Linked DNA regions of Homo sapiens: region 1 is linked to region 2. A link means that fine-mapping ties the variant in region 2 to the expression of a gene that starts in the linked region. Tissue or cell type: visceral fat. Region 2 holds a variant in brackets; the other region holds the start of a gene. All regions are shown on one strand. Distances are between the middles of the regions.

Evidence for each region. PIP is the estimated chance that this variant, and not a neighbour inherited with it, causes the effect.
Region 1: SIGLEC7 starts here. The variant in region 2 is fine-mapped to the expression of SIGLEC7 in visceral fat (GTEx, PIP above 0.99).

What each region holds. Positions count from the first base shown.
Region 1 is chr19:51,139,785-51,145,009 of GRCh38, reverse strand. SIGLEC7 (sialic acid binding Ig like lectin 7) reads right to left here and starts at 2,709. Exons shown (of 7, transcript NM_014385.4): 1 at 2,208-2,709; 2 at 326-604; 3 at 51-98. The coding sequence starts at 2,640. It overlaps LOC124904749 (a long non-coding RNA gene), which reads left to right and starts at 4,500. Exons shown (of 3, transcript XR_007067310.1): 1 at 4,500-4,586.
Region 2 is chr19:51,161,268-51,166,492 of GRCh38, reverse strand. LOC101928517 (a long non-coding RNA gene) reads left to right here. Exons shown (of 5, transcript NR_110732.1): 2 at 1,220-1,272. Among named protein-coding and RNA genes, the nearest start is that of SIGLEC7, 22 kb to the right of the region's middle. The variant C/T (reference allele first, on the strand shown) is at 2,557.

The sequences.
Region 1 (5,225 bases), 21 kb after region 2:
TGAGCTGAAGGCCCTGCTCCCCCAGCCCCAGGGAGGGGGCTCCATCCTACCTGTGCCTTCTCCTTGGAAGACAGTCACAGTCAAGTTCTGAGGAGGGTCTGGGACAGAAAGACATGGAGACCTGCATCACTGTGAGGGCTGGGGACACTGGCCCTGTCTCCCCAGGAGCTGCATAAATGGGGAAGGCGGAGCCAGCGTCCTCCTGATCCCACAACCAGCCCAGATTCTGGGACCCAGCACCCAGTGTCGAGCCCTGACCCCATCCTCTGCCCTCAGGGACGTCCCCCCCTCATCAGGGACCAGGGCGTCCTGGCTCAGCACTCACAGGACACATTGAGTTGGATGGTCCTGTTCGTGGTCACGCCGGCCCCAGGCAAGGTCACCTGACAGGTGAGGCTGGTGCCGTGGTGCTGGGGCTGTGGGATGAGGGTGAGCACTGAGGAGCGGGTGGTGGAGGGGTGCAGGGGGGACACAGAGGTCCCCATCCAGGAGATCATAGGGGGCGTCCCCTGCTCACAGGCCCAGGGCACAGAGCAGGTCAGATTCTGGAAGCAGCCAGACTCCAGGGTACCGGGGATAAGGATGTTGGGCCTGTGGGTCAAGGCTGGTGAAGAGAGGGGGACTCAGGATCAGGACAGAGGATCCATGGTACAGCCCTGGGGGAAGCTCAGGCTCTGGTTCAGCTTCTGCCCTGAGCCCAACTCGCTTCACCCTCAGCCCTCTCCCAGGGCAGGGGCCCCATCCCAGGCTTTCGCTGCCACCCCCATGACCTTTCCCTGTGGTGTCTCCTGGAGCCTGTGCCTTATCTGTCACATTCACAGAGAGCTGCTTCGTTTTGTAATTCCATCTTATCTGTCCTCTCTCCACCTGGAAGTAGTAGTTCCTCAAATCCCCCTTCCTGGCATCTCTGATGCTCAGGGAGCAGTTGTTGGTCTTCAGGTCCCCAAGGAGGTGGAATCGGCCCCGTGTCTCCTGCACTTTTCCATTTGGGATGTTTGTGGCCACTGGATTATTCCATTGTATATTGATCCCTTTCTTAAACCAGCATCCATGGACAGGGCTAGAGTCAGTTCAGTTGTAATAGGGTTAAAGGACACTGCAGGGCACAGAGACGCACTAGCCCTCCTGCACCATCACCAACTCCAGCACCTCCAGCCTGTATCTTGACAGTGGGGCCTGGGACGCTGTGGGGAAATGAGGCTCAGCCCAGCCCCGACTGTCCCTCTCTTCATTTGCCCACAAGAGAGGCAGCAGCATCTCTGAGACAGAGGGTTCCTGGGCTCCTTGTGTGAGCAGAGAAGTGGGAGGGAGAGGAGGGGCAGGGCTGTGGGACCCACAGGGGGCTGGAGAGGGGCTGGAGAGGAGCTGGAGACCTCAACCCAGCACGAAAGAGAAACTACAAACCCACATGCTATAGGAACTGGTTCCCTCTGCACAGAGTGAAGGAAACCCTGAAGCTCAGAGACCCTAGAGACCCACCCAGGGAGGAGAAGAGACCGTGTCCCACCTCCTACCTCCGGGCTTCCCTGGAGCACCAGGGCCTGCACCAGACACGTAGGTCCTGCCCTCCCGGCCTCTGGACCATCGTGGAGGTCCCTCCTGTCTTTTGAGCATCTAAATGTGGATCTCCGAGGACCTCAGGGCATGAGAGATGGAGGGGCCGTGTGCTGAGTCTCCCTGTCCAGGCTCAGGTGCCTCTGCTGCCCTTGGTTTGCGCCAGGAAGTGCTTCCTCCCTGGCCTGGCCTGAGAGAGTCACGGGGTTGTGTAGACCTAAGGCTCTCAACTGGGGAGGACTTAACCCCCCAGGACGTTTAACAATGTGTGGAGATAATTGTTATTGTCTCACTGCATGGGTGGAGTGGGTGCTTCTGGCATCTGGTGGGGAGAGGCCTGGGATGGTGCTAAACCCCGGCCATGCCTAGGACAGGCCCCAAAACAAGGAGTCATAAGGCCCCACATGCCACAATGCCAGCGTCAGAGGCAGGATGAGGATGTCAGGCCTGTGGGTCAGGGCTGGTGAGGGGAGGGGCCTGCAGGATCAGGAGGGGCATCCAAGGTGCGGTCCTGGGGAAGCTCAGGCTCTGGTCCAGCTCCTCTCCTGAGTCCATCACCCCCGGCCCCCTCCCAGGACATGTGTCCCGTCTCAGCCGTGCCCTAAAGCCCTCATCACATTTGCCTTTGGCCTCTCTTGGAGCCCGTGCCTTACCTGTCACGTTCACAGAGAGCTGGTCATATTTATAATTCCATTTTATATTTCCTTTCTCCATACGAAAGAAGTATCTCCCCGCATCACTCATTCTGGCATCTCTGATGCTCAGGGTGCAATTTTTGGTCTGTGGGTCCCCAAGGAGGTGGAATCGGTCCCGAGTTTCCTCCTGCACTGCCCAAGCTGGGTTGTTTGTGGCCACTGGAGCCTTCCAGCTTATATCATTCCCTGCCCGGAACCAGTAGCCATGAACTGGGTCAGAGTCAGTCTGGCTGTCCACTGGGTAGGAGAAGGAGCAGCGCACATGGACACACATGCCCTCTTGCACGGTCACGGAACTCTGCATCGTCAGCGAGTAATCCTTCCGGTTACTCTTCTGTCCTTCCACCCTCTCCCTCCCCCAGAGCAGGGGCAGCAGCAGCAGCAGCAGCATATCTGGGGTTGGAGGTGCCAGGGCCGCGAGGGAACGTCTGTTCCTCAGGGTTCTTCTCTCAGGAACTGCGGGCTCAAGACTTAGAAGAGGCCCTACAGGAAGTCGGTGGTGAGGTCAAAACAGTGACCTCCTTAGAAGAAGAACTTCACACACAGACACTGTCAGGGCTGGGTCAGCCCTGGGAGATCCACCGTCCACCACCCGACATTCACTCCTGGGTCCCTGAGGCCAGAGCGGGAGACAGACTCACCCAGATTCCCACCCCATGCAGGGCCCACCCCACCTCCTGCCTCCCTCTCAATGCCTTTCCCTTTAGGTGATATTTTCTGCAGGGTGAAAATAACTCCCATCTGCCCAGACCCCTGAGTCACAGGCTGTGGATGTCTGCGTAGCTCAGAAGTGGGACTCGGGGCCATGAGAGACAGGGGTGCAGGTGGGGTGAACAGGCAGCCTCTCATCCCTCCCTCAGCAGCCACGAGGTGGGCACCCCCTTTCTGCACAATGAGGTCAACACAGCAGAGCCGGACACTGTCCCCAAGGAGTCACTGTGTGGTGGGGAGACACTGAGTCTCCTGACGTTTGAGCTCCCCATGACAGGAGCTTCAGTGGGGGGCACAGGCAGGGTGGGGTCACTCTCCCCTAGGTCGGGGGTTCAGTCTCAGGAGGACCGAGCAGACGGACATGGGGCTGTGAAGGTGAGGATTGCGCCTGTTGATACACGCCAAGGACACGGAGGGGAGCCCAGCCTGCAGGAGGCCGGGGAAGCTGAGGCTGTGATTGTTGTATTGTGGGGCTTGGTAGACAGGAAAGTCATAAGGGAAAGGATCAATATGAAAAGAGCAGACACTATTCCCATCCTCACAGCTCTCTGAGCACAAGGACATTTCCCTTCACCACTGCTATCTCATGAGGCCTGGTTAGTGCAGAGTGTGAGGGGTCTGCTGGCCCTGGGGCTTTGCTCCTGCAGGAACTGCTCCTAGGGGTTCAGGTGAACAGGAGACGTGGAGCAAAGACACCAGCCCCGGGGCGTCCACCCTCAGTGATGGGCGCGATTTTCTGAGAGAAGAAACACGCACCTGACTTCAACAGAAGATTATTTTAAACTGTGTGACTGGGCTGGGAGGAAGTGGGAAAAATCCTGCAAGCTGCAGCCCCCTTAGATCCAGGCCAGCTTTTCTTGAAACAGTTTTTTTTGAGCGGGGAGAAACACAAGACATGTACATAAAAGTGTCCCCTAAAAACCAACTCAGTGATTCACACAAAATAAGCACCCTTGAAGAACTAGAACACAAAAGAACTGTCAAGTCTGTCCCTTGAAATGAAGAAAGAGATTTTATTAATTCATTCACCCTTACATTCCCCTTTCCTATTGGCCATGCCCCCGCTCCCTCCTGAAGGAGCCCCTAGCCTCACTTTAATGATAATAGTCTTCCTGCTGTTCTATGTAGTTTTATCATCGGCACATGCTGCCTTGAAAATTCTAACTTCACGTAGGTTTTCCTGAAGATGTTGTATACATAGAAAATCCCAGTCTGTTTTCTTCCATACAACTGCATTGATCTGCTCAGCCCACACTGTCCCCTAATTGTCCATAACCTAGAGATCATTTGGCTGTAACGATTGAGAGAGGAAGATGCTGGGTTTGGGCGTCCGAAGCCACTCCCCGCCCTCACCTCCAATCCCTGCATTTGCAGCTAGTATCTCATCCTGCAGACCAATCTGCCTCCTGGGCGCCTCCTCCTTGCCCAGCCACTCTCTCCCCATAAGGATATTTGCAGTATCTCAGTGGGCAGAAGTGTTACCGGATGGTGCCATGCAGTTCCAGGCTCTTGGTGTCTTAAACAAAGAATTGGATGAGACACACACAGACAGCAAAGCAAGAAGCAGCAGTTTATTAAGCACAGTATCACACTCTTGGAGAGGGAGAGCGAACTGATCTCTATGAGGTGAGATCAGCATTACTTTGGGTCTTTTTATGTTTGTTTGTTTGTTTTTTTGTTTTTCTTCGCTTCCCAAGGCTGCCAAATCTCTATCCAGTGTCTGCCTTTTTTCGGGGGGAAGGGGTGGTGGTGAGGTGGGGACGAAGTCACCCAAGCTTGAGTGCAGTGGCACAATCTTGGCTCACTGCAACCTCAACCTTTTGGGTTGAAGCGATTCTTCTGCCTCTGCCTCCCTGGTAGCTGGGACTACAGGCGCCCGCCACCATGCCTGGCTAATTTTTGTATTTTTAGTAGAGATGGGGTTTCACCAGGTTGGCCAGGCTGGTCCTGAATTCCTGACCTCAAGTGATCCGCCCACCTTGGCCTCCCAAAGTGCTGGGATTACAGGCGTGAGCCACCGCGCCTGGCCAGTGCCTGCCTTTTTGATGGTTAAGTATGTTGCTTAGTTACTTTGACCCATCCCATAATTTTAAGTACATGGATAATATGCAGTCCATATGCATGAACTTTAATGAGCTGATTATCATACAGGGTCATGTTAAGGATACTTTTTCTCTCTAATGCACATGCATAGCTCTGAAGAACTGCCCCTTACTGGTTTGGTCCAGATCCTGCTGGCCACGGGTGTCCTTGCTCACTTCTCTA
Region 2 (5,225 bases):
TCATCATAGAGATTAGCATTTCCTTTCATGAAAAAATGTGCTTCTCACAGTTACATGTGGCCCAAAGACAATATTTTCCGATAATATGAGGGGAATATACAGACAAAATTAAAATTTCAGGCTTAGTTTTTATGTTTATGACTATTTGTCTTTCGTGAGTTGCTTGTTTGGGCATTAATTGTCTTGTTGGAATTTAGTTTTTCACAGGTTTCCTAACCCTCTTGCTCCCTCTTGTTTGTCAGAAGTCTCAGACAGGCCAGGCGCTGTGGCTCAAGCCTGTAATTCCAGCACTTTGGGAGGCTGAGGCGGGTGGATCACGAGGTCAGGAGATCGAGACCATCCTGGCTAACACAGTGAAACCCTGTCTCTACTGAAAATACAAAAAAATTAGCCGGGTGTGGTGGCGGGCACCTGTAGTCCCAGCTACTCAGGAAGCTGAGGCAGGAGAATGGCATGAACCCGGGAGGCAGAGCTTGCAGTGAGCCGAGATCACACCAACGCACTCCAGCCTGGGCAACAGAGCTAGATTCTGTCTCAAAAAAAAAAAAAAAAAAAAAAAAAAAAAAAATCTCAGACAATGTGATCGTGCTGATCTCTTATGTGAGATTTGGAAATCTGCCTTCCTAGATCCTGTGGCACAGATTTGACTGTACCCAGCTATCACCTTCCTGACAAGCACACAACTAAATGTCCTGGCCCATTCTGTTTATAGATAAAAATAATTTTAGGTTCAGTGACATGATTTTCCATCTCATCTGGCAAATCCTCAAAATCCAGGGCATAATAATATTTGGTACCATATATTAGTAAAATCTTTGTAACAGTATTATCTAGGTAAATGTTCATTTGTCCTTGCTAATGTAGACAGCCATTTGCATTCTTAATATATAAGGAATTGAGTCTTTAATAAGTAACATAATACCTTGTAAGTTCTTCTAAAAATAAGAATGTAGCACATAATAGGAATGCAATAATTTGGTCTTAATAGTAAAGCAAATTATATTGTATTTATGGGTCAGAATGTTAAATATGAAGATGTGAATTTCACTGGATGTATTTAGTGAACTTTATTAGGCATAATTTACATGAAATAAAATGCACACACCTGAAATGTTCATTTCAGTGAGTTTTGATAAGTGTATGCAGCCCCGCTGTGACTGCCACAGTCAAGATACACAACACTTCTTCCACTCTAATGGTTTTCCATGTTTCTTTGCAGCTCACCATTCCCATCGCGTATGCTGGGAAATCATCAATATACCCGCTGTCATGGTGAGTTAGTTTGTCTACTTGAGAATTTCCTAGAAATATACTAAAAAATTGTGTCTGTATTCTGTCACTCAGCAATCATTTTTTGAAACTGAGCCAAGCTGTTGTATATGCCTGTAGTTCACAATGTGTTATTGCTAAGTAGTATTATCTTTTATTTACTCACCTATTGATAGACGTTTAAGATTTTCCAGGTTTTTTCTATAGGTATCCAAGTAGAAGTCTTTTTATAGACATGTTTTTATACTCATTTATACACAAGATGTGGAATTTTTAGTTCAAATAATACCTGCATATTTAATTTTTGTAGGAATTGCAGAATCGTTATCCAAATGGCTTTGACTTTTACCACTACTCCCAGCCATGCACCAGAATTCCGGTAGCTGTACACCTTTATTAACACTTGGTATTGTCAGTCTTTATATTTTAACAATTCTAGTGAGAGCGTAGTGTCATCTCTAGTGTATTTTGAATTTAGGTACCATCAATTTCATCAACTGAGTATTTCTCATATGCAATTATTTGAGGTTTGACAGATGTATGTAGCTATATACCCACAACCACAGTCAAGACACTACCAAGTGCCATTACTTAAAACATTCCCTCCTGATGTTCCTTGGTAGGCAACTGTCCCTCCCTATTTAATTCCTGTAAAAACACTAATCTATTCTCTACCCTACTGATATGCCTTTTAAAGAATGTCATATAAACGGAATCATTCAAAATGTAGCCTTTAAAATCTGGATTCATTCACTTGGTTTAATGCATTTGGGGCTCGTCCATGTGATGGGGTGTTGTTTTTAAATTGCTGACTCATACCTCACTGTTTTCATAGATCCCCATTTTGTATACATTTACTGGCTGGTGAACATTCATATTGTTTTTAGGTTTTGGTGACTGTAAAGTAAAACTAGTATAAATATTCACATGCAGATTTCTGTGTGTGGACACTAGTTTTTTTATTTCTCTTGGGTAAATACCTAGGAGTCGGGTGCTTGGTCATATGTGTAAGTTCGAATTTATAAGAAATTGCCAAACTGTTCTCCAAAGTGGGTGTACCATTTTACATTCCCACCAGCAGAATATATGAGTTCTGGTTGCTCTACGTTTTCATTAACATTTGGTATTATCCGGATTTAAAAAAAAATTTCTTTGGGTTTTGTTTTGTAGCCATTCTAATAGGTATGTACTGCTACCTCATTCTGGTTCTAATCTGTGATTTCGTAGCAGCAAATGGTGTTGAGAATGCTTTCATGTGATTATTTGCCATCAGTTTTTCTTATTTGG[C/T]GAGGAGGCTGATCAAATATTTAGTGCTTTTTAAAATTTGTGTTAAAATATACATTAAAAAATTACAATTTTAACCATTTTTCAGTGCACAGGTAAGTGGCACTAAGTACATTCACACTCTTATGCAATTATTAATCATTGATCTCCAGAAATTTCTTCATCTTGCCAAATTGAAACTCTATACCAACTAAATGATAACTTCCTATCCCATCCTGCCCCCAACCCATGGCAACCAACTTTCTACTTTCTTTGTCTATGAATTTGAGCACCTCTGGGAGATTGTGGGTAAGAACTGAGAAAAATTCTTCTTCTCCAGATCCATTTCTCTGTTCCTTTTTGTGTTTCTGCAACATGACCTCAGTTCTCTCAGGAAGCCCCAAAACCTGTGAAACTAACCTGTGCTTGCAGCTCTGCTTGCTGCCAGAAACAAAGGCTGGGAGCCAGCAACAGGAACCAGCCAGGGGATGAGTTCAGCCCAGACGTGCTGCCTGGACCTGGATTCCTGCCTCAGTGCAGGCCTTGACCTGATTTCTTGCTTCATTACCATACTAAAATCTCCACTCAGGGGCGAGAACTATGCCTTGCTAGGCACAGAAGGTGCCAAGTACAAAAGAAAACACAAGAGTGTGCACACTTCAGCCCCTCCTGAAGGAACCCACCTTTTTCCAGATCTGCCCGCCTCAGTCTCCAACTACCTGCCCTAAGGGCCCTTAAGATCCCCTTTTACCAACCCCTGGGAGAAGGTGCTTTGCACATGAACTCCCTTTCTCCATTTCTTGATCAATGAATAAAGTTTCTTCTCCGCTTTGCCGATTCTGGTCTCATTCTATTGGCGTAAGTGGCAGGGGGCAGAGAAAGGACCCACTAGGGCCAACTCACCCCTCCAAGGGTGGGTAACATTTGCAGCAAAACTCCTCAAGAGGTTGTTTGTCGTCACTCTTCCTACCTTCCTTTCTTCGGTTATTTTCCAAACGAGCTTCCAATCAAGTCCCCCACCCTTTCACACATGTTCATCAAAGCTGCCATTGCCAGTTATCTCAGACGTAAACAAAATCAACTCAATATGGATTAAAGATGGAAATGTAAGGCCTGAAACTGTAAAACTCCTTGAAGAAAACAGGAGAAAAAGCTTCTTGACATTATCTGGGCTCAGATTTTTTTAGATACTGTAAACTAAAAATAAAATCCTAAGCCCTGTAATCAACTGAACAGACCCCCTCTTGGCCAAGGGGACCCCAGAAAAATCTTAAAAACTGAGTTGCTGCTACAATGGGACGAGAGGTCAGACACACCTCATTATAGCCCCTTCCTTTTGCAGTTGAGATGCAGCAACTGATTAACCTTAATATGGAAATGGAGATCATAAGACTGGCAGAACAGACTCTGTGGCAATGAGATACCAAATCATATACAAAACCTAAGGCCATGCCAGGCAGGGGTTAAATTACACACCCCCACACTTAGAGAATAAACTATGTTCTAACTGCCACAATATGTTTATTTTTCTCTGGTAGCTAAGCAAGCACTGGTCTCAATATAAGTAATATTAAAACAATATACAGCTCACCAGCAGACACTGACCCCACACCCTTGTGACTGGACAAAAGACTGATTTCAGTAACTTTCTCTTGATAAGAACATGGAGCATGGACTGGTTATGGCAGGTTTTACAGAGGCTGCGCGCTTGAGGGCTGCTGTGTCCTCCAAAGACCTTTTGACATATAGGGCCTAATTGTAATACGTTTACATGGTAAGTCTCTACCCTAAGGTGAACATGGATTACATGTAACATGCGTGTTTGTTCAATATGCTTGGGTCAAAACCCTTTCATGAATATTCAAAGCTCCTTCTGTAACCTGTTGAATATGTATACTTGGCCAGCCCATTCAGCTTAAATTCCTGTCTTTCTCCTCCCTCCCTTAAAGTGCTTGTCTCTGAGCCTCTTCTGCAGGCTCTGCTTCCCAGCCTGTCTGGATGGCCACCTTGCAGGCTGTAATCCTTTATAAGAAATAAAGCTCTTTCTTCCAAATTGGTAATTGTGTGATGTTTAAGTTAACACCACCAAACCACAGGCAACAAAGGCAATAATAGATAAATGGAATTTCATCAAACTAAAAAGTTGTTTTAGTTTGTTTCTGCATGGCAAAAGAAACAATCACAAAAGAGTGAACAGACTACTTATGGAAAGGGAGGAGATATTTGCAAACCACACATGTGGTAAAAGGTTAATATTCAGAATATATAAGGAACTCAAACAAGTTGAGTTCAACAGCAAGAAAACAAATAATCTGATTTGAAAAGGCATGATGGACTTGAATGGCGAGTTCCCCAAAGACACAGAAATGGTCAACAGGCAGAGAAAAAATGATCAACATCACCAGTCATCAGGGAAATGCAAATCAAAACCACAATGAGACATCACCTCATACCTGTTAGGGTGACTATTATCAAAAAGATTGAAGATAACATATGTTGTCATGAAAGCACCAATGACAAATGTGTGTCCTCCTCTCTGCCTGTCTTCACCCCTTCCTTACCTCATCTGTGGTCATCACTACTCCAGCTGTGCATTGAAACATCTTCAGCTTGGACCCCTCTCCTGAACTCCAGGCATTTGCATTCAGCTGTCTCTGTTCTGTTCCCATTTGGATGTAAGGGAGATTCTCAGA